2 separate regions of the Homo sapiens genome follow, and region 1 is linked to region 2. Evidence: fine-mapped expression QTL. A gene starts in region 2. The other region holds a variant in brackets. All regions are shown on one strand. Distances are between the middles of the regions. Region 1 overlaps KDM4A (lysine demethylase 4A). Region 2 holds the start of KDM4A (lysine demethylase 4A).

The links.
Region 1: its variant is fine-mapped to the expression of KDM4A in nasal epithelium (TOPMed, PIP 0.94).

Annotation. Positions count from the first base shown.
Region 1 is chr1:43,691,867-43,706,778 of GRCh38, reverse strand. KDM4A (lysine demethylase 4A) reads right to left here. Exons shown (of 22, transcript NM_014663.3): 16 at 14,468-14,523; 17 at 12,677-12,785; 18 at 11,885-12,070; 19 at 8,766-8,936; 20 at 3,043-3,162; 21 at 2,667-2,759; 22 at 1,261-2,549. The coding sequence ends at 2,409. KDM4A-AS1 (KDM4A antisense RNA 1) reads left to right here. Exons shown (of 5, transcript NR_033827.1): 2 at 2,322-2,426; 3 at 3,132-3,215; 4 at 4,051-4,123; 5 at 6,027-7,055. Among named protein-coding and RNA genes, the nearest start is that of KDM4A-AS1, 8.0 kb to the left of the region's middle. The variant T/C (reference allele first, on the strand shown) is at 5,990.
Region 2 is chr1:43,643,880-43,658,791 of GRCh38, reverse strand. It overlaps KDM4A (lysine demethylase 4A), which reads right to left and starts at 8,643. Exons shown (of 22, transcript NM_014663.3): 1 at 8,540-8,643; 2 at 5,479-5,655; 3 at 3,026-3,201. The coding sequence starts at 5,616. RefSeq lists a silencer at 8,757-8,876.

The sequences.
Region 1 (14,912 bases), 48 kb before region 2:
TAAGGCAGGAAGGGACTGGCAGGCCGGGAGGTGCCGCTTTTGGCTGGGGCCAGTTCTCTTGAGGTCGACCCGACTGCATAGGCAGCCAGTAGGGGAGAGAACGGGCCGGTCTGTGTGATTTGGATCACCTGAGTTGCAGTTTCCTAAGAGTTATTAGGTTGACCAAAAAAAAAAAGTGCAGTTTCTGGAAAACTGGTCAGCTGTTGAGTAAAAACTGCTGGGATTAAACCCAGCGCCCACCCCTGGAGGCAGTGGGGTCATCGAGAAAGGTAGGGATCCTGTGTAAAAAGGCTGGTGAAGTGTTCCTCTCTTCCAAAGATGTATGGATTAGTGTTCTCTCACCAATCCACTAAGGCCTGGTTCTGCCCAGCCTCCCTTGCTACATCCCCTGGGAATCCCCAAGTGGAGTGTGGGCAAAGAAAAAAAAAGGCCAACTTCCCTCCCTGGGCCCCAGGAGGGAGCTGACATAGAAAAGATCACCTCCTGCACCTCCCTTTCTCCACAATGAGATACCAAGTAGCAACCACCTCTCAACCCCCAGGGACACAAGGAAGCATCCAGAGCAGCTGAACTGACCTAAGCCTCTCCTGCACCTGGACAGGGCCATGCCACAGGAAGTGCCTGGCTGTTTAAGGGCCAGCCGGTGCAGCTCCGGGGCACCCAAGTCCTGCACCTATTCATTGCCCCCCTCCCTGCTCTGTGGTTCCCCATCCTTGTCCACTTTGACCTCAGGGATCTACCAGCCAAAGGAGATTGGGTCTTCCTCCAGGGAAGCTTCTCACCAACTAGACAGCTCGGAGAGCAATCTGAGGATCCCACTGGAGGTTGAGTCCCTTGCTTTTCAAGCACCTAAAATGCACCCATCCTTCCCACTGGTTCCACAATTTGTATAGAGCACAGATGCTGGCATGAACTTAGGCCAGTTCAACAAAGATGTATCAAATGGGGCAGCAGTGAGAGATACTCTGTTGAGAGGACTCATTGGTCTGGTGCTTCCTCTGTTACCTCATCTTGCCCGTCTCTAAGGCAGAGCAAGCACAACAAAGAGGTGCTCAGAGCCAGAAGTGTCCCTGCTCCCATGACCCACCATACTTGGCCTAATACAGAGCTTGACAAGCAAAGGACCCACTCTCTGGAACTTCCTAGGGAATGCCTTACTGATTTGTCTTAAAATACACAGCCCCGCTCCAGAGCCTATGACTCTAGATACACCCCCCAGCCTGACGTGGGCCACGTGGGCTCCTTGGGGCAGACAGCCAATCCTCTGCTCAACACATTTTATTGCTAAGGACAAGGTGATGCACCAGTTTTCAAAATAATTTGGTTTATAGTGTTCATACGTAACAAAAAAGGGGAAGTATTATAAATCTGATTCTTGTATACACAGGGTATTGGTGTGAAGCCCTCCAATCCTGGGCCCAGGCAAACAAATTCTTGAGGAGCAAAAACCTGTTTAACCCCTTCAGTATTGCCCTCTAGTCCCACCCCCCACCCCAAAATCAGCTCCCTCCCACCTACAGTGGGCCTCCAATGGCCCCAGTTTTTTCATCCTAACCCTCCCAGCCCCTGCATGATTGCAATTTTCTGTTGACAGAATCACCCACCAGGCTCTGCCTGCTTCCATCATTAAAATCCCCGATTCAGGGTAATCCCCACCCACACCCTGTAATACTTTGCCACAGGGGCTCTGCACCTAGAGTGTTGTGGGCACACACCCATGTTATCCCCATGTTCTCCTTTAGGGGAAGACAAAGAGGTGGCATCAGCTCCTTAGCATCTCAATACTGCAGCTTTGCCAGCACTGTCTTGAGACGGTTCCAGGCCTGGACAGATGCCACACCCATCTCCAGCCAACCCCCAGGAGCCCTTACTCAGCTCAGCTGAGGGCAGAATTTCACATTTTGTTTGCCCTGCATAGGCAAGGAAGAAAGTAAAGGCCAGGGGCTGGCAGAAGCTGGTCCAGACCAAACATACACGCACGCACGCACGCACGCACACACACACACACATATAAATACAAAAGTAGGGGTTGGGGCAAGTACCAGCACCTCAGCCTAGTCGGTGCAGGTGATAGTTATGAAGCTAAGTCCTAGGCCAGGAACAAGGCAGCCAGTCCAGCCAGCATAGTTGACCCCTCTATGGACTGGGGCCAGTGCAGCCACAGCATTCCAGTGCTCAGCCCCTCAGCTGGGAGATCAGCGACTGCTGCCACGTGCCCAGAAATGGCTCGTCCTTTCACTACAGCGGAATGCAATGAGGGTGGGTGAGAAGATGATGGGTCGGTTATTTCATTCCTTTTCTTTTTACAACTTCACTTTCAGAGACTTCAGCGTTCCATGTCTGCTGTGCTGTGGAACCCAGAGTGCTCTTGCCTGGATGGCTGAGAATCCCTTGGACCCTGGAAGCACCTACTCCATGATGGCCCGGTATAGTGCAGGCTCAATATAATCTTCCCGGTATCTTGAGTTGATAACTCGTTGCCGTTTCTTTTCTTGCTTAACCTCTTTCTCTGTGAAAATCTCATTGAAGCGCATGTCTGAGGCTACTGACTATAGAAGAATAAGCAAGCCAAGTGTCAGCTACCCCAGGAACAATACAAAGGGATGCATCCTTGACTTGTTCCCTCCCTCCAAGACAGGAACTGGGGGGACACAGAAAATACTCACCAGTCTAGATTTGACTCTCTTGGGAAGCTCTTCATCCAGTGTGTATACATCATCTCTCTTAACCACAAGTTGTGAGCCATCCTCAAACTCCACCTACCAAGGAAACAAAGGCCTTTTGGCTAGGATATCCCTGACTCTTTCCCTGGTCCACCATGCACAGTGGCAGTCCCCTACAGTCAAAGGAAGGAGTTAGAACACTAAAATAACAACTACCTTACTTCACATTTGGCAGACTGGAAACAGGGCAGACCCCTAGCTCTGAAAGGGTTACCAACCTATTAGTTCTCCTAAGAGCAAAGACTCGCCTCTGGCCCAACAGGAAGCACAGAATTAATCAAGCACCCCCCACTCCCTAGAAAGGTAGAACTTTGGATACCTGGTACATTTGGATAGGGTGGGAGGCCACAAACTTGGCTCCATAGACTTGGCCGTCTGTCCATCTCACTTGGACCACTTCCCCTTCAGCAGGAGGACCAAACTGGAGACAGTCCTGGCTCTGAGGAAACAGGAAGGAAGGAGGGTGAAAGGAACGTCCACCTGCACACAAAGGTAACTGTCCTCTACTCAGGGAAGAGTGAACCAGGACAAAGTAACTGTTTTAGAGAGCAAGGCAGCTCTCTGGGCTGAAAAATGTTAACAGTTAAAGACCTTGCTAAGTCAAAGTCTGCCCCTATCTCTGCCCTCTCCTGCTTCTAGGTGACCAAAAAAAAAAAAAAAATCCAGCTATAACAAACTTAGTAAACACAGGAGTTAAGTGCCAGAATCAAGAGTCCTTCTTACATTCCCTCAACTGTTCCCCTGCGGGTTCTCCAGGGCTCTGCCATGAAGAAATACTAGAACCATACTCAACTATAAGACATGTGTTTTTTTTGGCCAGGCACGGTGGCTCATGCCTGTAATCGCAGCACTTTGGGAGGCTGAGGCAGGCAGATCACCAGGTCAGGAGATCAAGACCATCCTGGCTAACATGGTGAAACCCCATCTCTACTAAAAATGCAAAAAATTAGCCAGGTGTGGTGGCAGGCGCCTGTAGTCCCAGCTACTCGGGAGTCTGAGGCAGGAGAATGGTGTGAACCCAGGAGGCGGAGCTTGCAGAGAGCTGAGATCACGCTGGAATACAGTGGCCTGATCTTGGCTCATTGCAACCTCAGCCTCCTGGGTTCTAGCAATCCTCCTGCCTCAGCCTCCCGAGTAGCTGGGACAACAGGCACGTGCCACCATGCCCAGCTAATCTTTGTATTTTTAGTAGAGACGGGGTTTCACCATGTTGGCCAGTCTGGTCTCGAACTCCTTACCTCAGGTGATCTGCCTGCCTCGGCTTGCCAAAGTGGTGGGATTACAGGCATGAGCCACTGTGCCCAACCAAGAAATATGTTCTTAACAGGAAAGATGAAAAAGAGTCACCTACCATGGGACCTGGCAAAGTACTTCAGAACTTTTATTCCTTCCAGAAGCAGGTAAGTACCCCAAGTCCTCATCGTATTCCCAGCATAGGGCTTGGTATACGGGGGGATATTTCATTCAGCATATTGGCTGAATGAAAGGTCTGATAGGTATACCTGGGAGAAGGTCCTTAGGGACATGGCTTAAAAAATGAGAGAGGGGCAGGGCAGTGAGTCTAAAAGGATGTGGATGCTCACATCTGCTCTTACAATCATGCTACAGTTCATTTATTGAGTGGAAACAGTTCCCTACTTATTGACAATTCATTTACTGAATAGGTAATCAGTAAATACATTTTGTATCAATCTAACAATTAGGCATAAACTACAGCCTCCTACACCCAATATCTGAGGTGTTCTAAGATTTAACTACTCAAATGTTTGATATTTGATAAATTGTTTAAGTTCTCTGCAATTCAGTTCCACCTCCTATAACAGCACTTCTGAAAATGTGGTCTGTGAACCTCTGAGGGGTTCCTGAGACACTGTCAGGGAGCAAGTGAGACATGGCTATTTTTATAATATTAAACTATTAGCCTTTGTCACTGTGTTGTCATTTACCTAGGATAGGTACAACTGCTGGCACCTGAGCACAGATCAAGGCACTGACCCTAAGCTCTACTAGTTGTTATTGCATTTTTCACCACTGTACACTCATAATTTAGGAGAAAAGAGCAAAAACTCTAGATTGCATGTAACAATATCCCTTGATGAAGCAGTAAAAAATTATTAATGTTGTTAAATCTTAATCATTGAGTACATGTGTTAAGTCCTCATAAGACACTTTTGGTTGTCTCAAAGAAATCTATCTGTGTTGTTTGAGTTGTGAATTACACTAGCTGCTTTGTTCATGGAATACCAGTTTTATTTGAAAAAAATTACTAGGCCAGGCATGGTGGCTCATGCCTGTAATCCCTCACTTTGGGAGGCAGAGGTAGGAGGATCGCATCAGCCCAGGAGTTCAAGACCAGCCTGGGCAACACAGGGGAGACCCCATCTCTACAAAACATAAAAAATTATCCAGGTGTGATGGCACACGCCTATAGTCCCAGTTACTCGGAAGGCTGAGGACTGCTTGAGGCCGGGAGGATGAGGCTGCAGTGAGCCATGACCATGCCACTGCACTCCAGCAGTGGTGCTGCGCAACAGAGCAGGACCCTGTCTTTAAAAAACTCTATGAAAATTTAAAAAAAGAAAAAAGTGACTGACAAACTATGGCTTTTCAGACTTAGGTATCTGGCAGACATCTTCTTGAAAATGCATGAAGTGAACGCCTGTCATGTCAAGGAAAACAAAAGTCAGTATCTGTTGCCAATAGTAAAATTCAGGCTTTCAAACAAATATTAGCATTTCAGAGAAGCGGCATTCACAACTGTGAGCTTGAAACTTCCCAAAATTCCAAGTTTTTTGATTATTAGTGATACTAACAAATGTAATTTTTAAAATATTTATGGCCGGGCGTGGTGGCTCATGCCTGTAATCCCAGCACTTTGGGAGGCCAAGGCGGGCAGATCACGAGGTCAAGAGATTGAGTCCATCCTGGACAACATGGGGAAACCCTCTCTACTAAAAATACAAAAATTAGTTGGGCGTGGTGGCGTGCACCTGTAGTCGCAGCTACTTGGGATGCTGAGGCAGGAGAATCGCTTGAACCCGGTAGGTGGAGGTTGCAGTGAGCCAAGAACGCACCACTGCACTCCAGCCTGGCGACAGAGCGAGACTCTGTCTCAAAAAAAAAAAAAAATTAAATTTATAATAATATTTAACAACATTTGGAGGCTGTCGATAGGCCAGTGCACCAATATTTTCTAAATGACCAAAGTATGATGTTATAAAAGGATGCATGGGTGAAAGATCCATTCAGAAGAGACCAATGGGTTT[T/C]AGTGTTAACAGTATGAAACGTTCACTGACCTTTCAGATTCCACACTGCAACTAACTTTTAAGAACCTGCCAGGAGCAGTGGCTCACACCTGTAATCCCAGCACTTTGGGAGGTTGAGGCAAAAGAAATCGCTTGAGCCCAGGAGTTTGAGACTACCTGGGCAAGATGGCAAGACCCCATTTCTACAAATAGCCATGCATGCCTGTAGTCCCAGCTACTCGGGAGGTGCTTGGTCAACAAAGCAAGACATCATCTCTTAAAACAAACAAACAAACAAAAAAAGTTGTTACTTCCATTGAGTTTTGGTGGATATCAGAGAATAATAAACACAATTACCTGAAAGACTATTAAAATACCTCCCTTGGCTGGGAGTGGTGGCTCACAGATGTAATCCCAGCACTTTGGGAGGCCGAGGTAGGCGGATTGCTTGAGCCCAGTTTTGAGACCAGCCTGGGCAACAAGGCAAAACTCCATCTCTACAAAAAATTAAAAAATTAGCTGGGCGCCAGTGACAAGGGCCTGTAGTCCCAGCTACTTGGGAGGCTGAGGCAGCAGAATCACTTGAGCCTGGTATGTGGAGGTTGCAGTGAGTTGAGATCACTGCACTGCACTCCAACGTGGGTGACTGGAGTGAAACCCTATTTTAAAAAAACAAAAACAAACTCCTTTTTCCAATTACATATCTACGCAAGGCTGAATTTTCTTCCTATACTTGAACCTAAACAGTGTATCACAATAGATTGAATCAAGAAGTGACATTAAGGCCAGCGCGGTGGCTCACGCCTGTAATCCCACCACTTTGGGAGGCCGAGGCGGGCGGATCACGAGATCAGGAGATCAAGACCATCCTGGCTAACATGGTGAAACCCCATGTCTACTAAAAATACAAAAAATTAGCCGGGCATGGTGGCGGGCGCCTGTAGTCCCAGCTACTCGGGAGGCTGAGGCAGGAGAATGGCGTGAACCTGGGAGGTGAAGCCTGCAGTGAGCCAAGATCATGCCACCGTACTCCCGTACTCCAGCCTGGGCAACAGAGCAAGACTCCATCTCAAAAAAAAAAAAAAAAGACATTAAAGAGATTTGCAAAATTGCAGGGAAATGGCAATCTTTTGTTTTTGTTTTAGAAAAGTTATTTTTAATCTAAAAAAATTGATTATTTTAAATCAATCTGCTTTAATTTCTAATAAGAATAAATACGTTTAGATGTAACCCAGAGAAACACAGGCTCTTTGGGGTCTCTAACTTGTAGAAAATGGAGTCCTGAAACCACTGTAAGTTAGAGATAATACCACATCCTTCTCACAGTGGGTATGAGAAGATAAAGAGATACTTGAAATAACCACTTAGCATAGTGCCTGGCATACTGTACCAGCTTAATAAATTACAGCAAGGGCCAGGTATGGTGGCTCAAACTCTTGTAATCCCAGTGGTTTGGGGGCCCAAGATGTGAGGATCGCTTCAAGCTGCGAGATCGAAACCAGCCTGAGCAACAAAGCAAGACCGTTGTTACTACAAAAAATTTAAAAATTAGCCAGGTGTGACTGCATGTGCCTGTAGTCCCAGCTACCTGGGAAGCTGAAGCAGGAGGATCACTTGAGTTCAGGAGTTTGAGATTGCAGGAGCTATGATACAGCCACTGCACTCCAGCCTAAGTGACAGAGTGAGACCTGGTCTCTCTCAAAAAAAAAAAAAAAAAAATAAGGCCAGGCACAGTGGCTCACGCCTGTAATCCCACCACTTTGGGAGGCCAAGGTAGGCAGATCACTTGAGCCCAGGAGTTTGAGACCAGCCTGGGCAACATGGCAAAAGCCCGTCTCTACAAAAAATTAAAAAATTAGCCGGCTGTGGTGGTGCGTTCCTGTAGTCCCAGCTACCAGGGAGGCTGAGGTGGGATGATCACCTCAATCCAGGAAGTTGAGGCTGCAGTGAGCTGAGATTGTGCCACTGCACTCCAGCCTGGGCGTCAGAGTGAAACCCTGTCTCACAAATAAAATATAAATAAATGATAGCTATGCTACTGCTATGAGTACTACTAATGTCGCCTTTTCTATAAGTCTACCTTATAACTAATGAATGTGCTTTTAGCAACTGAGTGGCTAATGTGGTATAAACATGGGACAATACCTGATTTGTTAAAGGAAAAAATGGTTTCATTCCTCTCTACTTTGGTGGTCAGTCTACCAACTGAAAAGGCAAGGTGGGGGTAGGGGAAACCTGAACTAAGTCCTCACTACCAAGCCAGACCTAGGACTGGGTCCATGTGGGGCCACTGTGTCTCAGGTGTTGATAACATAAACAGGCCAAGGGTGTCTCCAGGCAGTTTCTACTTAGCCCTAAAGCCCACTGTGAAGAGACAAAAGCAGATTCTATACATCTACTAAGAGGGCCTGATAGAAAAGAGAGTTGGATAATTCCCCTAAAATCACACAGCTACTAGGCAATGAAGCTGGTATTGGCATATTTGATTCCAAAGCCTGGGCTCTCCTATTGCACTAGAATGCCCTCAAGGATAATTTAGACGGCAACAGATGCAGGTTTCAAGGAATTGCAGAAAATACTGATTCCCAGGTACTTCTAGGGAAAATAGGGTACCCTAGCAGCACGCAGTTTTCTTTGCAAAGAAAGACTGGTACAGATGATTCTTTCTGTTTGAGGACATGGTGATGGGACCAGGGACCTGGCTAGAAGAAGCAGGCATACACACACAGTCTGCCAGCCAGACCTTAGAAACATCCCCCCATTCCAAACTGCCTGAGAAGCTCCTTGCAGATATTACCACTATGTCCTCAGGATAAAGATTGTCGCTGAAGGAGCCATCATCAAAGTTGACTTCATAGAAGGTCTCGGTGGTGAGCCTGACCACTTCACACTGGTAGAAGCGCCCGTTCTTATGCTTGCTAATGACTTTCTGGCCTGCAGTGATGCTTTGCAAGGCCCCCTTGGCACGCTGGAAAAAAACAGAGGCTTTGGTTACTCACACGTGGAGTTTGCAGGCCTGGCATATGGAGATGAAGATCAATTAGTTCCTCCTTATCAGGGAAAGATAAGCATGGGAAAGTAAAAGTAAAAAGGAGAGAAGAGATGGGAGCTAAAACAAGCCTTTCCAGATACCCACCATCCCAGCCAGGACATTGGAAGAGACCAGTACCACATTTCCTCCATAAATTTAGCTCTTCCCATAAATTTAGCTAGTCCACAACTGGCCCTTATACCATATTATCTTACCCAGAACTCTCTGAACAACAACATGGACCTCTGATCTTGCCAAGAACTGACATCAAAGTATCGAAGGAGAGACTCAATAGGTGCCCTGAGGCCTGGGCCGCCAGGCAAAGCTGCACCACATCTTAGCACCTGCAGCATTACCCTCAGGGCTAGGGCACAAAGACTTAGGTTTCCCAGATGTCTCCAGCTACACACAACAAACTGTCCCCCATTCCAAGGGCCCTGCCATTGCCATCTCTGGTGCCCTCAACCATGCCCTTCTCATTCTGAACTTGCCCTTGATGCAAACAGGATCACAAAGTATGTGACGGCCTCATTTCCAAGCACGCCTGCTAGCCTGCCCAGGCACTCTGCCCCAGCCATGCTGGCCCCCCTTGCTGTTCCCTGAATGAGTGTGCCATATGTGCTGCCACCCAGGGCTTCGACACTGCTGGTTCTTCTACCTGAGATGCCATTCCCCAGTTACTTGCACACTGACTCCCATCCCAGTGTCAACTTATTGATGTCATTCCTTACTACTTCATCTTCCATTCCCCTTATCTGACTTAATTTTTATCCCTGCACTTCTCACCATCTGCTATACTGTGTATTTACTTGCTTCTATGTGTCCTTCAACTATACTGTATGCACCAGAAGGGCAAGGACTTTTTTGTCTTGTTCAATGGTATAGTCCTGGCACCTAAAACTGTGCCTGGCATATAGTAAATGCTCAATAAACATTTGAAGAATAAATCAGTGAAAAAACTACTAACTCATCAGTCCCCCCAATTTCCTCATAGCACCAGCAGTCTACAGCTGCCAGCTTAAGCATGTGGAGTATTAATGATTATCACAAAATAACTATTCTGTGTATGAAAAAACTCTTCCCTATCATAGCTGTGACTCAGTACTACCTCAAGTTTTTACTTGCATTAAGGGCAAGTTCAGAATGAGAAGGGCATGGTGAGGGCACCAGGGATGGCTAGGGCAGGGCCCTTGAGACACTCCGGAGTCTCATTCTCACATACAATATGTTCCCATCTTCCTAAGGTCCTTCCTATCATACCCCTGACCACCTGTCACGTTCAACATCTTTATGAAAAAGAATGCAGTCAGCCAACCAGGACTTTTCTGCAACCCCAAATGGCAGAGTGAAAAGTTCATCCTTCTGGGCTGGCCATCTATCACGTTCTTCCTTTGATTATGTATTTACCACACTGTTGTCAAACTTGTATGATCGCCTCTTCTATTAGATTGTAACTCACTCATGGCAGAGCCTTCCCCAACTACGGTCTGGCTTCTGACCTGACTACTCCACAGGGACACTCCAGTTTGTGGTACTTAGTGACCACCACACCAGCCCTGCCTTCTCTGTTGGATATGACCCTCCTTCCTCCCACTGGCTTGCTTCACTTTCTCAACTGCTTTCACTGGTTCATGCTCTGCTACCTGCTTCTCCCACTGGGAATCTCCAGAGCCCAGTTTCTAATGGGAACTAGATTTAACTATGCTGTTAAATGCTAATAGCCAAATCTTTACCCTCACAGTTACTCTCCAGAATGCTCCAGTGACCTCAGCATTTACTTTCCTCTTTCTCATCCCTCCTTCTCTCCCTTGCAGAGCAACACTGCTTCATCTCAGTTCCTGATTGCAGTTACTAACATCATATTAGCATCCTTCCCATCTCTCAAGGGAGTAACCTGAGTCATCTTCAATATTCACTCCCCCTTTCCTCCTCCTCTCCCCTTCTCTCCTCAACCCACGAGGGTCAATAAACCCTATCAGTTCTACCTGTTGGAGGATCTCAAAGTTAAATGTACCCCAAAGCCCTGCCTATGTGTTCCCATTTCAGACCTCACTCTCTCCTGGACTAACTGGTTTTCCAGCCTCAAATTCTTACTCTGAATCCTCTCTTCAAACAACCACCTGAGTGATTATCAAAAACTATAATGCAGAATCAAAATATTCAACAAGTTCTCATCCAGTGAAGACAGGTCAGAGTCCTGAGAGTGGCAGTGCAGGGCCTTCATCCTCTGCCGTTGTCCGCCTCTCAAGCATCACACTCCCACACACCGTCACACTCCCATAACCAGTCTTTCATGATCCTTCTTCTGCGACCTGTTCATTCTGTTTCTCAAGCTCTGCACACAACAGTCTCTGCATACAATTCCTTCTTATTGTTTAAGACCCACTTCAAATGCCACCGTCTACCCAATCCTCTTCAGAGCTCCTCTAGCTAACATTACATGTCACTTTTTCTCTAAGCTTTACCATTAAGAGAACTGCAGAAATCTCTACTGTCTGGCAATTCATGGTTAACTCTTGGGAGCTCTCCCCATTTGTTCTCAACATTTTCAGAGGTTCTGCATGTCCCGGACACTAGGTTAAGTAATAAGGATGACCACATTAATAAGATATGGACCCTCAAGGAGTTTATTCTGATGGAGAGGCAGACAAGTAAAGAGATAATCAAAACGAATCAACTACAAGCAGTTTGGTGTCACTGGCTTATGGAGTACAAGGCAGGGAGTGGAGATGGACAGGGGCCACCTCTCAATCTCTTAACTCATTAGCACTCTTCATAATGCAGAATGCTTGAGGAAATAGTTGCTGATACAACAAATGGAAAACATGCAGAGAAAATGACCATGAAAACTGTCAAGAGGATTCTAGAATGACACCCTCTCTCACCTCCAAATTAGGAATCTTGTGCCGAAAGCAGGTAATGAAGACCACAAAAGGCCAGTCGTCAGGCTGCATCATCACACCGGCAGCCTGGGCGCAGCTCACATGGAAGGCAGTTGGGCAGCGGCCGTGAGAACACTGCACACAGCAGCCAGCAGTTCTTTTCCTCCGCTTCTTACAGAAGATACATTTCTGTAGCACAGGGGAAGAAAACCAGTGATTGCAGGAACTGGCACTGCAGCTTCCTCTGTTGTTCCCCTCCCAAATGCAAAGCCAAGCAAGCAAGAGCCAGCCCCTTCCCAAAATACAAGGACACACCAGCCTGCTCTAATCCAGGTCTGGTTACAACTTTATCTGCCAAGGAAATTTTTTTTTTTTTTTTTTTGAGACGGAGTCTTGCTCTGTCACCCAGGCTGGAGTGCAGTGACACAATATCGGCTCACTGCAACCTCCGCCTCCCGGGTTCAAGTGATTCTCCTGCCTCAGATTCCCGAGGAGCTGGGATTATAGGTGCGCACCACCACTCCCAGCTAATTTTATATTTTTAGTAGAGTCGGGGTTTCACCATGTTGCCCAGGCTGGTCTTGAACTCCTGACCTCAAGTGGTTCACCCACCTCGGCCCCACAAAGGGCTGGGATTACAGGTGTGAGCCACCACACCTGGCCTCCACTAAGGAATCTAACCACAGAGTGAGAATCACAAACTCTAACCAAAACCAAGGGGTACAGGAGGTCCCTGTTCTCTTCTACCCAGAAACTTGTAAGTCGGGAAATTATGTAGAGTCTACAAGCCCTTACCAGTTTGAAGCGGGGCAGGGGGATTTTGCTCACATCCACCGGACTTCTTTCTGCAATGTTGACAAACCTTGCTTCCAGAATTGCCACAGCACATGAAACGTGGACCCACCTGCCAAAAGGCAAAGGCTCCCTCAGTCACCTCTGGGCCCAAGGCTCTGTGGCCTTCTCTTTTGGGCCTGCTGACAGCGCTTCCTCCCTCACCTGGGTGACCACTGACTTCCACCAGCACATGCCTGGGACCCAGGAAGGTGAGAACCAGAACCGTCTCTCCTCTGAGTATGTGGAAGCAGTGCCACCCCCACTGCCCACCTAGGCCACTGCCCACTGCCCTAGGTTAGCACCGGATCATGCTTCTTACACCACTCTGTTGAAAAATGAACAGAGCTGCAGGCTAATGGTGTGTGGCAGGTCTCAGGGAGTGAGAATAAACTGGAAAGCTCTATGCAGACCTCTTTACCATAGGACCCAAGTGCTTCCTGAAAACGTCCCCGGCTGTGCCCTAATCTGCCAGTAATCACAGCTCTCTCTCGGCCTCTGCCCAAACCTCTCCCCCAGGCTGAAATGACCTCTCCCTTCTGCTCCCTTTTTCCATAGCTGACTCACTCTTTAATCTTTAAGGTCTGACCCAAGCCCCACTTACTCTGAGAGGTCTATTCAACGGACATCCTTAAGAATTAAAGTAAGTTTTGGACATTTTGGGAAACCAGCATGCATCAAGAGGAGAAGAACGAAAATGGTGACAACTCTTAAAACCATGCTACGTGAAAACCTACACCAGACAACACTGGGGCTCCATGGAAGCTCTCTGCAGTTCTAGTGGGGCTGTCTTTTTAGAGTGGGAACAGATTTGTTCTGTGTGGCCCTGGAGGGCAGAACAGGCATTCAGAGGTAAAGGTGAGAGATTCAAGCACAGCCATTTCCACTCCAAATAAGAAAGAATGTTCCCAGCACTATCCTGTGACTGTGAGGAACCCAGTGACCTCAAATAATGGCAGCAAGTGCCTTTGAAGGAGCAGAAGCAGCAGGCAGAGTAGCTATCTCTCAGGGACAGCATAACTGGGACTCTTGAGGGCAGGCGGCTGGACTGAACATATGCTGCAAGTTGCCACGGGATTCTACTTGGAAGCAGGATACTCAGCACTGACCTGCACGCACCATGCCCTAGACAGCTAGCTCTTCCAGGTCAGAAACCTCATTCATCTTACGTTTCCACCTCAGAGCAACCAAACACAAGCCTAAGCACAAAGATTCACTCCATGAAAACGAGCTGCCCAACAGCTGAGAAGCCCAGAAAATTCAGCAGATTCGGTTCCATAGTGGGTGGGCCTGTCTGAGCTCTCCTCAGTGTCCTCCTTGAGCACACTCGCCTCATTCCAAACAGCAGGTCTGAGCCAGGGAGTTTGCCATGTGGAGAAGTGCTTGCTAGCCTGTGGCCGCCTCTGCATACCAGCCCCAGCTGTGACAAGGTGAATGTCCTCACTCCAGCCCACACAGTCCCTGCGCATCATCTTCGTCTTCATATTCTCATGAGTCCATTCTTAGCTTCTCCAAAGGAGGATGTCACTGACATCTCTGCTGCAGAGGAGCAGCTGGAGTTGGAAAGTCTGGGACTGCTTGGCTCCCTTAGCATTCCATTTTTAAAATGAGTCTTGGAGATGCTATTCCTGCTCCACACGATGTGCTTCCCAAATCCTCATCAGTCATTCAGAAGAACAGCTAGTACCCTCACAAAGACACTGTGTGCTTCGGAACTGAGCCTGTGCATTCCAAGGCACTGCTCAGGAAACTTACCTGTCATCATTTGCTCTCTGCAGGGCCCCTCCTCGTAATGAGCATAAACAGCAGTCCTGCCAAGAAAGGAGAGGGAGGAAAAAGTGGTTAATACCAAGTCATTAACATTCAATCTGCTCTCCCCTGGACCTGCTTTGGGCAACTCCTCCACATAAGAAAGAAGCATAATAGCATGTGGGGCTTCACCCAGGCAGCCCCTGCACCAGGACGCCCTGTCAGAAGGAGAGGCCACTCAGGGCTAAAGTGTGCCAAGTAGTCACGTGACTTCACATAATCCTCTTCATTGTTGCTGCTAATAACAACTCTTAGCAAAGTCACAAAAGATACTTTGCTCAAACTAGAGGCATGACAGGGCTCTGACTGCTTCTTATATGGGCTAGGTACAGCCAGGTTCCAGGGGGTACAGTGAAGAGAAAACAGCACAATGAATCATCTGAGCCCCTTT
Region 2 (14,912 bases):
AATGGCTCACGCCTGTAATCCCAGCACTTGGGAGGCCCAGGCAGGCGGATCACAAGGTCAGGAGATCAAGACCATCCTGTCTAACATGGTGAAACCCTGTATCTACAACAAATACAAAAAATTAGCCGGGTGGTGTGGCGGGCGCCTATAGTCCCAGCTACTTGGGAAGCTGAGGCAGGAGAATTGCTTGAACCCAGGAGGCGGAGATTGCAGTGAGCCTAAATAGCACCACTGCACTCTAGCCCGCGCCACAGAGTAAGACTCCATCTCAAAAAAAAAAAAAAAAAAATCTGACTAAGTAACTGCCTTACACTTTAATGTCAACCTAGGGAATAATAAATTTTAGAGACCTAACATTCTCTCTGAAATACAATTAACTCCCCTATTGTCAACTAATCTGTTTCATGAATTTAGGTTTTTAGGTTGGGCACGGTGGCTCATGCCTGTAATCCCAGCATTTGGGAGGCCAAGGCAGGCTGATCACTTGAGGCCAACAGTTCGAGACCAGCCTGACCAACATGGTGAAACCCCGTCTCTACTAAAAATACAAAAAAATTAGCCAGGCGTGGTGGTGGGCACCTGTAATCCCAGCTACATGGGAGGCTGAGGTAGGAGAATCGCTTAAACCTGGGAGGCAGAGATTGCAGTGAGTGAGATTGTGCCACTGCACTCCAGCCTGGGCAACACAGCGAGACTCTGTCTCAAAAAAAAAAAAAAAAAGTTATGTTTTTACTTTAAAGGTAATCTGCTATGTATTAGGACGAAAGGAATAGACATAGGGCTGGTTAATTTAAAAGGAAAACAAGTGTGCTAAAAGAAGAAAAAGCGAGACCAGCCTGGCCAATATGGTGAAACCCCATCTCTACTAAAAATACAAAAAAATTGGCCGGGCGTGGTGGCGGGCTCCCAGCTACTCGGGAGGCCGAGGAAGGAAAATCACTTGAACCTGGGAGGCGGAGGCTGCAATGAGCCAAGATTGTGCCACTGCACTCCAGCCTGGGTGACAGAGCGACACTCCATCTCAAAAAAAAAAAAAAAAAAGAAAAGAAAAAGCCTTAACAAAAAGGGAAAAAAGGCTGAGGAGACTGAAGCCCCTGGCTGAATTCCATGTGAGAAACAGAAGGCAGGTGAGTTTGCTCCTCATGTGTAGCAAAAATCAGACAATAAGGATGGCAGGAAGGATACAGCCTTTCACCTGCAGAGCCCCACATTTCTTCAACATGCCTTTATGTAAATTCTCTCATCGGTCAGCAGGTTGGCCAGCAAGGTAGATGTTTTAAGAGTTAAGGTTGGCCGGGCACGGTGGCTCACACCTGTAATCCCAGCCCTTTGGGAGGCCAAGGCGGGTGGATCACGAGGTCAAGAGATCGAGACCATCCTGGCCAACATGGTGAAACCCTGCCTCTGCTAAAAATACAAAAATTAGCTAGGTGTGGTGGTGGGCGCCTGTAATCCCAGCTGCTCAGGAGACTGAGGCAGGAGAATTGCTTGAACCCAGGAGGCGGAGGCTGCAGTGAGCCGAGATCACGCCACTGCACTCTAGCCTGGCGACAGAGCGAGATTCTGTCTCAAAAAAAAAAATAAATAAAAGGAGTTAAGGTGTCAGCCGGATGCAGTGGCTCATGCCTATAATCCCAGCACTTTGGGAGGCTGAGGCAGGAGGATCGCTTGAGCCCAGGAGTTCAAGACCAAACTGGGCAGCAAATAATAAAAAATATTAGCTGAGCGCGGTAGCACATGCCTATCTATACCTCCAGTTACTTGGGAGGCTGAGCAAGGAGGATCATTTTGAGCCTGGGCAGTCGAGGCTGCAGTAAGCCATGATTGCACCACTACACTCCAACTTGGGTGACAGTAGAGACGGTGAAACCCCGTCTCTACTAAAAATACAAAAATTAGCCAGGCGTGGTGGCAGGCGCCTGTATGTAATCCCAGCTACTCGGGAGGCTGAGACAGGAGAATTGCTTGAACCCGGGAGGTGGAGGTTGCAGTGAGCCGAGACTGCACCATTGCACTCCAGCCTGGGGAACGAGCGAGACTCCACCTCAAAAAAAAAAAAAGATGGAGTAGTCAGAGCTGAACAAGGAAACACAAAATTTATTCTCTGTGAATCTCAGGAAAAATGAGAACTAAACATTAAAAACAGCGGAGAAGGGCCAGGAGTGGTGGCTCTTGCCTGTAATCCCAGCACTTTGGGAGGCCAAGGCAGGAGGATCACTTGAGGTCAGGAGTTCAAGACCAGCCTGGCCAATGTGGCGAAACCCTGTCTCTACTGAAAATACAAAAAATAGCCAAGCATGGTGGCGCGTGCCTGTAGTCCCAGCTACTTGGGAGGCTGAGGCAGGAGAATCACGTGAACCTGGGAGACAGAGGTTGCAGTGAGCCAAGATCACTCCACTGCACTCCAGCCTGGGCAATAAAGTGAGACACCATCTCAAAAAAAAAAAAAAAAAAAAAAAAAACCAACAGCAGAGAAGAACTGAAAACAGGCCTACACAAAGAAAGATATCTCTAAAAGAGACAGGAATGTACAGAGAAAGAAGGAGTGACAGAAAATAGCAACCAGCTTGGTGGTTTACTCACACTGTTAATGTCAAAACAGAAATGAGCTAGCAGGCTGGATGGGCAGTGAGAAATTCCAGCACAATTAAACACAGAGCATCCCGAGAGAGAGGAAGTGGAACTAAAGCACTTTTGATGAGCAGGTGGTTGATAATACCCAGCAAAAGCTCCTTGTGCACCACATCCAACTTTCTCCTTGCAACTTTAGAGTCAGAAAATGATTCTACTTCTGATGGAAAAACAATGGGATTTGTTGTTATAAGAACAGGAACAGGTTTAGACTGGGACACAGTCCTGAGAGGAGGGAATGCTTCCATAAAAAAAGCAGAAAGGGAGACAGCTAGAACAGAGCCATCCTGCTGAAGACACTGTTCATCAGGACAGCAGCAGTCCTGGAGATGCTAGGAGGATGAGACACCAGGGTCCTAGGTGCTATGTCAGGTAAGAAAGGGTTTCCACTCACTTATCGCTATTGGCTATCTTGCGGAACTCTCGAACAGTCATGGCTTTCTTCTGTATGTTGTACTGAGTAAAGAGGCCAGACTGCCCCGTCACCAGCTGTTGAATGGGGGCAGGAATGACCAAATCATCAATGTCATCATAGGATGCTCGTGGCTTCCACTCTTTTGGAGGAACAACCTGAAGGGAACACAAGAAACAAAAAGACAGATGAGAAACCTGGCAAGCCAGTCAGAGTCCAGGAAGCATGTAGTTACCAGCCAACCTAACAGTCAATTTTACTAGACAGTTACTTTGATTTACCCACATTCACCAAAACACAGTAAGTCACAGGCATGCTAACCCTGATCCACTTTTGCCACCAACCAGCTGCCTAATTGCAGCAACCTAAGGTAAGTAATACTTGTTCCCAGCTTCAGTATCTTATTTGGACACCAAGAAAGGAGATTAAAGACTTGATTCTCTCTCAATCTCCTAGCCCAGGGCTCTCTTTAAAAAAATCACAAACACAACTTTACTTGATTTGGTCAACTCTATACTTGTACAGAATTTCCTTTTTTCACACACTAGATTACAGTTTAATTACAAAGAAGCATAACATTCTTAAAAATCTAATCTTGAGGCCGGGCACAGTGGCTCATGCCGGTAATCCCAGCACTTTGGGAGGCCGAGGCAGGTGGATCACCTGAGGTCAGAGTTTGAGATCAGCTTGGCCAACATGGTGAAACCCCATCTCTACTAAAAACACAAAAATTAGCCTGGTGTGGTGGCACTCAACTATAATCCCGGCTATTTGGGGGGCTGATGCAGGAGAATCGCTTGAACCCGGAGGCAGAGGTTGCAGTGAGCCAAGATTGCGCCATTGCACTCCAGCTGGGGTAACAAGAGCGAAACTCCATCTCAAAAAAAAACAAAAAAAATCTAATCTTGAATAGTTAAGTAAGATAGATCTGCTTTATGGAATACTATACAGCTTTTTTTTTTTTAATTAGAGAGTATTGTTTTACTTTATGTAACAAGGGAGAAAACAACACACACACACACACACACACACACACACACACACACTCACAAGCATCTGCATAAGGCAACACTGAAAGGACATATAAGAAAATACGGAAAGGGAGCAAGACTCTACATTAGCTACCTTCCAATAGCATTCTGTTTTTACTCACATAATCAAATTACCCATTCCAATAGTAATAAATTAACAAGACAGTCGACATGAGAAAAAAGAAGAATGAGTTGAATCCATAATTGACCTAGAGGGAGGAATATATGTTGTTAAAAAGGAAAAAAGAAAAAAAAAAAGAAAAAAGAATGAACGAACCAACACAGGAATGTATATGGCATGATGCCATTCTCTTTTAAAAACAAAACAAATAACACTATTTTATATGTGTGTATGTTTGTATGAGCAGAGAAAAAGGTGTGGAGGGAGCTAATACCACTTAAGGAGACGGCACTGGAGAAGGTGGATGAAGATCAGCCTTTTCTTTATCTGCGTTTGAAATATTTAACTTGTAATAACCGACATTTTTTTGGTAACTTTAAATCTAATAAAGTACAACCAAAAAAAGCAATGTGCTATGAAAAACTGCACTGCAGGCCCTGCTATTCCCGCCTGCTGTTATTAACCCAGCAGTAGCCGTATCTGCAGATAAGAAAGAGGATGTGGTCGTCTCAAGTCTCTGGAGGCACCAGGGTCCAAGACTGGTCCTCAGCTTTGTAGCCAATGTTCTTGCTTTCTCTTTTCATATTGAAAATGTAACAAGCACATATGGTAGGGAATTCAAACAACATAAAATGGTGTAAAAAATTTCCTCCTGGCTTAGACTGAGGTCCCTGCCTCTCAGTTTCCTGAGGATCTCTCCAGAAATGCAGTTCTTTCAGCTTCCAGCACTCAACCTGATTGTGACAGAATATATGAAAAGCTGATTTGACTCAGGAAAAATAACGAATCCAACTCACAGGAGAAAGAAGTACAAACCAGAAACCAATTTCAAATTACAAGGACCAGAATACTCATGTTGGCTGGCCAGTGCATTCTCTCCCCTTGAAGAAAGTCCACATGGGAAGCCAAATTGCTACTAGAGTGCTGGATGAGACTGAAATGAGAGCAAGAGAAGTCAGATGGCATAAGCACTCACTGGCAGTTCAATAACACCACAGCACCCAGCTCCACCAAGAGGGCTGAGGCACAACAGCAGCCAGGCCTGGAGACACTAGCTCTTTACCTCCCCCTTTCTGAAGATTCCAAGTAGCTCTCTTCCTACCTAAAAGCAGAGATGCTTCTGATGTTAACAACGGGAATTAACTTGCAAATAGAACCGCATTCACTAAAGTCATCACCCCACCCAACTTTCAGTAAAACACAGTTCCGGCCCAAATGTAGGAAAAAAATCTTACTGCTCTGCCCTAGGTAACAAAACCATTTGAACAATCCCAGCTCCTTACCTTGGCTAGCCCTGCCCGATGAGCTCCTTGGGATTCAATGTAGGCAATGTATCTACTGAAGTTTCGGAACTCTTCCATAGTTGGATAAAAGGTCATTATCCTAGCACTGGGATTCAGAGTTTCAGACTCAGAAGCCATTTTCCCTCCTTTTTGAGGTCCCTTTAGTCAGACAGGAATCTGAAGAAACACATTAAGAGTATAAAATAATATAAAAATTAAAATTAAGTGCTGGAAACATCAACTCTGAAAACAGTAAAAGATAATATAGAAATTCAAAAGACACAGTTAAGACTTCACACCTGGAATCTACCTCTAGAAAAGTTATTTAGGGGCCGGGCACGGTGGCTCACGCCTGTAATCCCAGCACTTTGGGAGGCCAAAGCGGGTGCATCGCCTGAGGTCATAAGTTTGAGACCAGCCTGGCCAACACAGTGAAACCCTGTCTCTACTAAAAATACAAAAAATTAGCTGGGCATGGTGGCGGGCACCTGCAATCCTAGCTACTCGGGAGGCTGAGGCAGGAGAATCACTTGAACCCGGGAGGCTAAAGGTTGCAGTGAGCCAAGATTGCGCCATCGCACTCCAGACTGGGCAACAAGAGCGAAACTCCGTCTCAAAAAAAAAAAAAAAAAAAGAAAGAAAGAAAGAAAGAAAAGTAATTTAGGGTGGGGGTGTGGTGGCTCAAGCCTGTAATCCCAGCACTTTGGGAGACTGAGGTGGGCAGATCGCTTGAGTTAAGGAGTTTGAGACCAGCCTGGGCAACATAGTGAGACCCTGTCTCAAAAAAAATTTTTTTTAAATAAACAACAAAAAGTTATTTAAATAAACTAGAAATACAGATCGAAAAGGTTCTGTTTAAAAAGAACCTGATGTATCAAAACTGCATGGATTCAAACCTTATTTCAACAGAGACATTGTTACTGCAATAGGATTGTTCTTGAAAGAAAAAAAAAAGAAAATTGTTTCAGCTAAAAAAAGGAAACTAATTATTTAGTTGTTGGTCCTAATAGTACAGCTAAAATGCCCATATTTTACCCTTATCCTTTCAAGCTACTCCCTTATTAACACCTTGCTAATCACTTTTCAGAGTATTAAACAGAATACACTACAACTTGAAAGCCACCCATGGCTGGGTGCGGTGGCTTACGCCTTGTAATCCCAGCACTTTGGGAGGCCAAGGCTCCTCCCTAGGGCACAGCTAAACCAGATACCTAATAAAAGTTACGTGGCTACAAGATAACAAAACTTAAGGGTTCAAAAGTACTTTGATATTAGTAACATGATTTAAAAGCCCTTTGATATTAGTAACATAATTTTAAAACCCTAAAGTGAAACTGTTCTGTTGAAACTAAGATGCAGTTTCAGCAGTACTTAATGAAATCAAGCTACAGACAAGTTCAGTTGCACTGTACCCAGAACTCAAAGGACAAAATTTAAACTGGCAATACACGGAAAACTTCATAACTGATTGGAGAAAGCAAAATAAATACTTTGTTTTTAGATGAGAACTTCAGCTAAGTGGGTGCATCCCCACAGCTCGGTAACGCAATAGACCACCTCAACTGAAAAAAGACAAAGCATATCAATGAAAATAGGCCATTCTAGAAGGAACACCAGTATGTCCTTTCCTTTACCCACCCTCCTCACTGAGGGTCCAGCAGTTCCGTACCCCCTATCTGGGGCCCAAAGGTATGGCGGTTCAGCTCCAAGACTCTCTTTGAGAGTTGGAGAGCTCAGAAAGGAGAAAAGCGCCTCCAATCCACCAGAAATCTAGTTACAGGCCTGGGAGCAGAACACGGAGCACAACTGTGTAAGGTAGGAGAGAAGGCAAATCCAGTTACCCGTATCTCCTAGGCTTCCTATCAAAAATAAGGCGTGTTTCTAAACAGGCGCTTTTCATGAACCTGGCAGAAACTTTGCATGGCAGGTATACTGTTCTCCCTGTTTTACATACCAGGAAATTTGCCCACAGCCCACTCTTAAGTGCACCTTCCACTGCTCTATACTGCTTACATACTCATCTCCACCTGGACTAAGTCCTCTGCAAGGGCAGCTCCAAGTGTGGAGAAACCCGAAGTTTATTTAATTTTGAAGACCCTCTTAAAAAGAAAAATGAATCCAAAATATCTTACTTTTGCACATTTTATAAAAACATACAATCATGTGAATACAATGTTGGGGCCCTTCCCCGGGCCTTCAAAGGGGCCCTAATGGGCTTCATCAGCCTCTGCCCCTATTCATCTTTGTATGCCTAGAACAATGCATGGCACAGAGTAGGCAATCGGTAACTGTTGAAAAACTGATTTCCTCACCCTCACCTCAATTGTTCATCCCTTCTTCAACCCTAGGATTCCCTTCCCCCAAATCTGTTCCCTGGGGAAAGCTCCCGTTTCATGACACCTTCCCTCCCAATCAGTAACAAAGCCTAGAGATTCAAGAACACCGGCTCCGAAGTCAAAACTCTGAATACAGATCCGGTCTCTGCCGTTTATTAGCTATGTGACCTTGGCTGTGTGAGCTGACTTGAGTCTCAGTTTCTCCACCTGTAAAATGGGGATCCCAACCCCCTGCCCTGCAGGGTCGCTGTGATTAGCTCAGATGATGCAAGCGAAGCACTAAGCACTAGGCCCGGTACTTACCCACTCAATAAAGCTAGCTGTTGCTAACAACCCCCTCGGACTCCCGCACCCTTCCCTCGCAGCCGCTCCCGCGAGCATCACTCCAAAGGCAGCGCACCCTGCTCCCCACCGTCCCCGAACCTCACCGCGCACAGGTTCGGCCCCTCCCGGCCCCGCCGCCTTGGCGAGTGAAGCTCGGCCGCAGGAAGAAGAAAATAAGGCCCAGATGACCCGCCCCCCTCTCCCGAGGTCCATTGGCCTTGAAGATTGGAAAGGACCAATCTCAGAACCCATTCTGGAAGCTCCTTCTCCTATTGGCCGAGAAACATGCCGATCACTCACCGCTGGAAGACCCACCCCCACCGCCCCTCCCCCACCAAAACTCACGGTCACTGCTACAGCGGCAATGATCCTCGAGAATTCCAAAACCCTATAGTTCTCACCTACAGCCCAAAGCCCCGCCAGGGCTTAGGCTCAGCTCCTGCTGTCGCCACTGGCCGATCCTACTGCTTTTCCAGCAGGCGAAGGCCGAAACTCCGCCTCCTCTAAAGTCGGCATCTGCGCAGCCGTACAGAGTCAACCAATTCAAGGGTGGCTGCAAGCCATACACCAGCCAATGAGCACGCGCCGCAGCCACCTCCCAGTCCCGACCTCAGTGTGCTCAGCCTATGAGCGCCGGCTCGGGCTGTTGCCGGGAGGAAACGCTGTACCACTAGGGACCGCGGCCAGTGAGCCTCTAGCTGGATCGCGAAGCTGGCCAATCATAGGCGGGCTCCTGGTCACCCATAACTAATCAGGGTTGAAAGAAGCTAGTACCTGGAAGTGGGCCGGTCCGGTAGATGGGTAAGGGCGGTGAGGTTACTATAGGATGTCGCTAACGAAAGGATAGGCCAAAGTTTTCTTGGGATGAGTATCCTCTTTGCCTAACGTGGAAATGTGTCGGGGCCCTTAGGGGCAGCTTCCGAGCTCAGGGAGTGCTGAAAAGATGACCGTCTTGTCCCGGTTTGTCCTGGGTGTCTCGGTTTTCAAAACAAAATCCCGTGGCCTTGGAAACCCCTCATTCGCTGTCAAGCCTGAACAGGGAAGGGAAGCTGCCCTGAGGGTCATTAGGACAGACCATGAGGGAGGCTCTCCTTAGGGTCATTAAAAAGCAATTCCTGGCCGGGCGTGGTCCCTCACGCCTGTAATCCCAGCACTTTGGGAGGCCGAGGCGGGCGGGTCACCTGAAGTCGGCAGTTTGAGACCGCCTGACCAACATGGAGAAACCCCGTCTCTACTCAAAAAAAAAATACAAAATTAGCCGGGCGTGGTGTTGCATGCCTGTAGTCCCAGCTACTCCGGAGGTTGAGGCAGGAGAATCGCTTGAACCCGGGAGGCGGAGGTTGCGGTGGGCCGAGATCGCGCCATTGCACTCCAACCTGGGCAACAAGAGTGAAACTCCGTCTAAAAAAAAAAAAAAAAAAAAAAAAGCAGTTCCTCAGTGAGCGGGGATTTGGGGGATCATTAGGAGCAGCTCTTGGGGCGGAGAGGGGGGCATCCTGGGAATCAGAAGAGGCACTTCTGGAGGGCGAGGGGGCTTCCTAGAAGTCATTAGGAGCGGTTCCTGAGGGGTAGTGAGTCGCCTTAAGGAATTCCCAGATTGTCAAGGGTAGTGGGGAAGGTCAAGTAGGAAAGTAAAATACCCACAACCAGAGTCATAAAAAAATATACAGAATTACCATGGATGAATAATGGGGTAGTGCCCTGGAAAGAGCTATATGGAGTCAGGCCTGTGTTCAAAACTAGTAACTTCTCTGAGCCTGGGAGTTCACATCAATAAAATGGAAAAAATAATGCCTTGCAAATTTTGTAAAGATGAGAGTTAATGAATGTTGGCAAAAAGAACATATTTCATAGAATGCTATGGACCAATCATGATTTATGCCTCAGGCTGGGTACATGCCTACTGAAAAAAAAATCTTTAAAAAAAATAGTTTCAAAAACAGAAATGACTGTTTCAAAAAGAATGGCCGTTGGCTACGCAGCCACAAGTCTTTCACAATAGGGGTTTTTGCCCTTACCCAGTAAGGTAATCGACAGTATTAGATAATAGATTATACTGAGTGGCTCACAAAAGTGCCGAGTCTGAAGAATCCAACTTGCAGGACACATAAAGAAAACCCAAATCCTGCGGTAGAATTCATCCACCACTGTCTTTCCTGCTGCCACTAAGCACAAGATACTGCAGGTTGCTTCACAGACTCCACTGTCCTGGACATGGATACAGTCGCTAGTTACTGTTACTGTGTTCCATAAACTGGATTTTGCTGTATTTCCTGGTGCTGCCAGATGATTTCCAAGGGCCCTCTACTGTGTATCACTAGCTTCCAATTGGTATGTGCATGTGATAGGTGGAGCCTAAATCAAGTTCTCGTGATATGCTCCCATTTTTCTGACCAGTTTTCCTGTTTCCTTTTTAAGCTCACCTTTCCCTTTGCACACTTTTTGTTTGTTTGCTTGCTTTTTTGTTTTTTTGTTTTTGAGACGGAGTTTCGTTCTTGTTGCCCAGGCACGATCTCGGCTCACTGCCACCTCCGCCTCCCAGGTTCAAATGATTCTCCTGCCTCAGCCTCCTGAGTAGCTGGGATTACAGGCGCCCGCCACCACACCCGGCTAATTTTTTTTGTATTTTTAGTAGAGACAGGGTTTCATCATGTTGGCCAGGCTGGTCTCAAACTCCTGACCTCAAGTGATCCACCCGCCTTGGCCTCCCAAAGTGCAGGGATGACAGGCGTGAGCCACCGTGCCCAGCCCCTTTGCACGCTTTAAATGTCGATATTCTAAGCAAAACTAACCTATAGCAATAAAAGTCAATGTTCTGGTTACTTTTAGGTAGGGGACAGGGAATGATGGGAAAGGGTGGCACAAAGAATGCTCTGGGGTGTTAGGAATTTTTTTTTTTTTTTTTTGAGATGGAGTTTTGCTCTTGTTGCCCAGACTGAAGTGCAGTAGTGTGATCTCGGCTCACTGCAACCTCTGCCTCCCAGGTGCAAGTGATTCTCCTGCCTCAGCCTCCCAAATAGCTGGGATTACAGGCACGTGCCACCACGCCCGGCTAATTTTGTGTTTTTAGTAGAGATGGGGTTTCACCCTGTTGGCCAGGCTGGTTTCGAACCCCTGACCACAGTGATCCACCTGCCTCGGCCTCCCAAAGTGCTGGCATTACAGGCACGAGCCACTCCGCCCAGCGGCAATGTTCTATTTCTTCATCTAGATGGTGGTTATGCTAGTGTGTTCACATTGTAAAACTTACTTTTATTTATTGGTTAGATAGATAGATAGATAGATAGATAGATAGATAGATATTTTTTTGAGACAGTTTCATTCTATCACCCAGGCTGGAGTGCAGTGGTGCCATCTCAGCTCACTTCAACCTCCACCTCCTGGGTTCAAGCGATTCTCCTGCCTCAGCCTCCCAGGTAGCTGGGATTATAGGCGTGTGCCACCACGCCCAGCTAATTTTTTGTATTTTTAGTAGACAGGGGGTTTCGCCATGTTGGCCGGACTGGTCTCAAACTCCCAACCTTAGGTGATCTGCCCACCTTGGCCTCCCAAATTGCTGGGATTACAGGCATGAGCCACCACACCTGGCCACTAAAATTTTAAATTTAAAAAAAAAATTTTTTTTTTTTGAGACGGAGTTTCCCTTTTATTGCCCAGGCTGGAGAGCAACGGCGTGATCTCAGCTCTCCGCAACCTCCACCTCCCAGGTTCAAGTGATTCTCCTGCCTCAGTCTCCCAAGTAGCTGGGATTACAGGCATGAGCCACCACACCCGGCTAATTTTGTATTTTTAGTAGAGATGGGGTTTCACCATGTTGGTCAGGCTGGTCTTGAACTGCCAGCCTCAGGTGATCCGCCTGCCTTGGCCTCCCAGAGTGCTGGAATTACAGGCGTGAGCCACCACGCCCGGCCAAAAAATTCTTAATAGAACTGGGAGGCTGGGTGCAGTGGCTCTCATGCCTGTAATCCCAGCACTAGGGAGGCCAAAGTGGGAAAATCACCTAAGGTCGGGAGTTCAAGACCAGCCTGCCCAACATGGCGAAACCCCATCTCTACTAAAAATATAAAAAATTAGCTGGGCATGGTGGTGCACACCTGTAATCCCAGCTACGCAGGAGGCTGAGGCAGGAGAATCGCTTGAACCCAGGAGGCAGAGGTTGCGGTCAGCCGAGATCACGCCACTGCACTCCAGCCTGGGTGACAAGAGCAAAACTCTGTCTCAAAAAAAAAAATAGAAGTGGGGTCTCCCTATGTTGTCTCAGCTGGTCTTGAACTTCTGAGCTCAAACAACCCTCCTGCCTTGGCCTCCCAAAGTGCTGGAATTTCCAAGCATGAACATGCCCGGCTGTGAAAATTAACTGATCTGTATGCTTGAAAGTTGTGCATAAGTTTTGATATACATATACCTTAGTTTTTAAAAGTAAATTTAAAATTTTTTAGTTAAAAAAAAAAGGAAAAACATGTTAATGTCCTCATAGCTTTAGGTCCTTTGCCCTCTTCTCTCATTCTACACAGTCTTCTTAGGTGCTTTTGTTTTATTTTTTCTTTGAGTTAGGGTCTCCCTCTGTCACCCAGGCTGGAGTGAAGTGGTGCAATCACAGCTCACCGCAACCTCAACCCCCTGGGCTCAAGCGATTCTCTCACCTCAGCCTCTCAAGTAGCTGGGACTACAGGCATATGCCACCAAGCCCGGCTAATTTTTGTATTTTTTTGTAGAGACGGAGTTTTGCCATGTTGCCCAGGTGGGTTTTTGTTTCTGTTTCTGTTTTTGTTTTTTTGACAGCTGCCCACGTGCAGGTGTTTCTGGCTCTACAACTCACTAGCAAGTTACTTAATTTCTCTAGTTCTCAAGTTTTCTCATAACTAAAACTGGGATAGTACTTCCCTTTCTGGGTTGTGAGAATTGAATGAGATAAATGAAGTAATGGGATAATGAAGTAAACCAGTTAGAAGTCTAATTGGCACGTAGTAAGTGCTCAGTAAATGTCAGCTCAGTAAATGATGATGATGGTACAAAGCACTTAGCACAGAGCCTGAAACAAGAGCTCAATACACTTTCACTCTTAGGCTGCACTCATGTGCACACTGATGACACCCATTGTATATCCCAGACATCTTCTCCCTGGAGCTCAGATCCATGTATCCTGCTGTCTCTGGATCCCTCCCCCTAGTTGTCCTACAGTTACTTAAAGCTGACCTACCCAACAAAGAGCTACTCTTGCCCCACAAATAAGCTGTACCTCCTAGGTTTCCTATCTCAGTTAGTGGAAGAGCCATGACCTAATTGCTTAAGCCAGGTGCAGTCCATTACCTCACCCTGTCCAGAGCTCCACAAAGCAAGTATTTTACAAATGCATGGATTTGTTTACATGTGCATCTTTCCTCACTAGACAAAAGTCTCGTGAGAATATCATTTTGGTCTTATTGCTAATACCGTTTAGGAATGTATTCCATTGCCAAAAATAGAAAACCCTAGCAAAAGTGGCTAAATACAAGTTTATTTTCTCATCGGATAAGAGGTCTGAAGGTGGTGAGCCTTAGCTCAGTGCTCAACAAAGTCATGAAACATACAGGTATGTTCCATCTTTCTCTTGCACCCTTTGCAACGTGGCTTTTGCCACCCTCTTGTGCAACTCGTGATTGTAAGGTGACTGCTGCAGCTCCAGAAGGAGGACAGAGACAGTGTCCTGTTTCTTCTATCACACCAGCAAAAAGACTACCAGAATCTGCCTGCCTGCCAGTAATGAGTGGAACAGACCCTTTCCTGCACTCATGGTTTTTATAATCTAGTGAGAGAGAGACATGAAGCAAGTGCTTGCACAAAGAAAGAAAATTATAGGCTGGGTGTGATTCACACCTGTAACCCCAGCTACTCCTGAGACTGAGGCATTCGAGGCTGCAGTGAGCTATTATGGAGCCACTGCACTCCAGCCTGGATGACAGAGTGAGACTCTTATCTCAAAAAAAGAAAAATTGCCACAAAGTTGTGCTTGCTATGAAGGAAAAGAATAGGGGAGAACACCTTTAGAGTGACTTGCCACCAATGGCAGCAGGATTTGGAAATAAAGCTATCATGGCATAAAGTGTATGCCATGTTCCCAGTCCAGGGTTTCCTTTCCTAGAGCTTCACTTTATCCAGCACTCAGCACAATGCCGAGCACATGGCAGGCATGACATAAGTAATCATAATGGCAATATTATTCGCTTAAAAAGTTAACTACACCTAGGCCAGGTGACGTGGCTCACGCCTGTAATCCCAGCACTTTGGGAGGCCGAGGTGGGTGGATCACGAGGTCAGGAGATCGAGACCATCCTGGCTAACACAGTGAAACCCCGTCTCTACTAAAAATACAAAAAATTAGCCGGGCGTGGTGGTGGGCGCCTGTAGTCCCAGCGACTCAGGTGGCTGATGCAGGAGAATGGCATGAACCTGGGAGGTGGAGCTTGCAGTGAGCTGAGATTGCGCTACTGCATTCCAGCCTGGGTGACGAAGCGAGACTCCGTCCCCCCAAAAAAAAAAGTTAACTACAGCTGGGTGCAGTGGCTCACTGCTGTAATCTCAGCACTTTGGGAGGCTGAGGCCAGTGGATCACCTGAGGTCAGGAGTTAGAGACCAGCATGGCCAACATGGTGAAACCCTGCCTCTACTAAAAATGCAATAATTAGCTGGGCATGGTGGCAGGCGCCTGTAATCCCAGCTACTCGGGAGGCTGAGGCAGGAGAATTGCTTGAACCCAGGAAGTGGAGGTTGCAGTGAGCCGAGATCGTGCCGTTG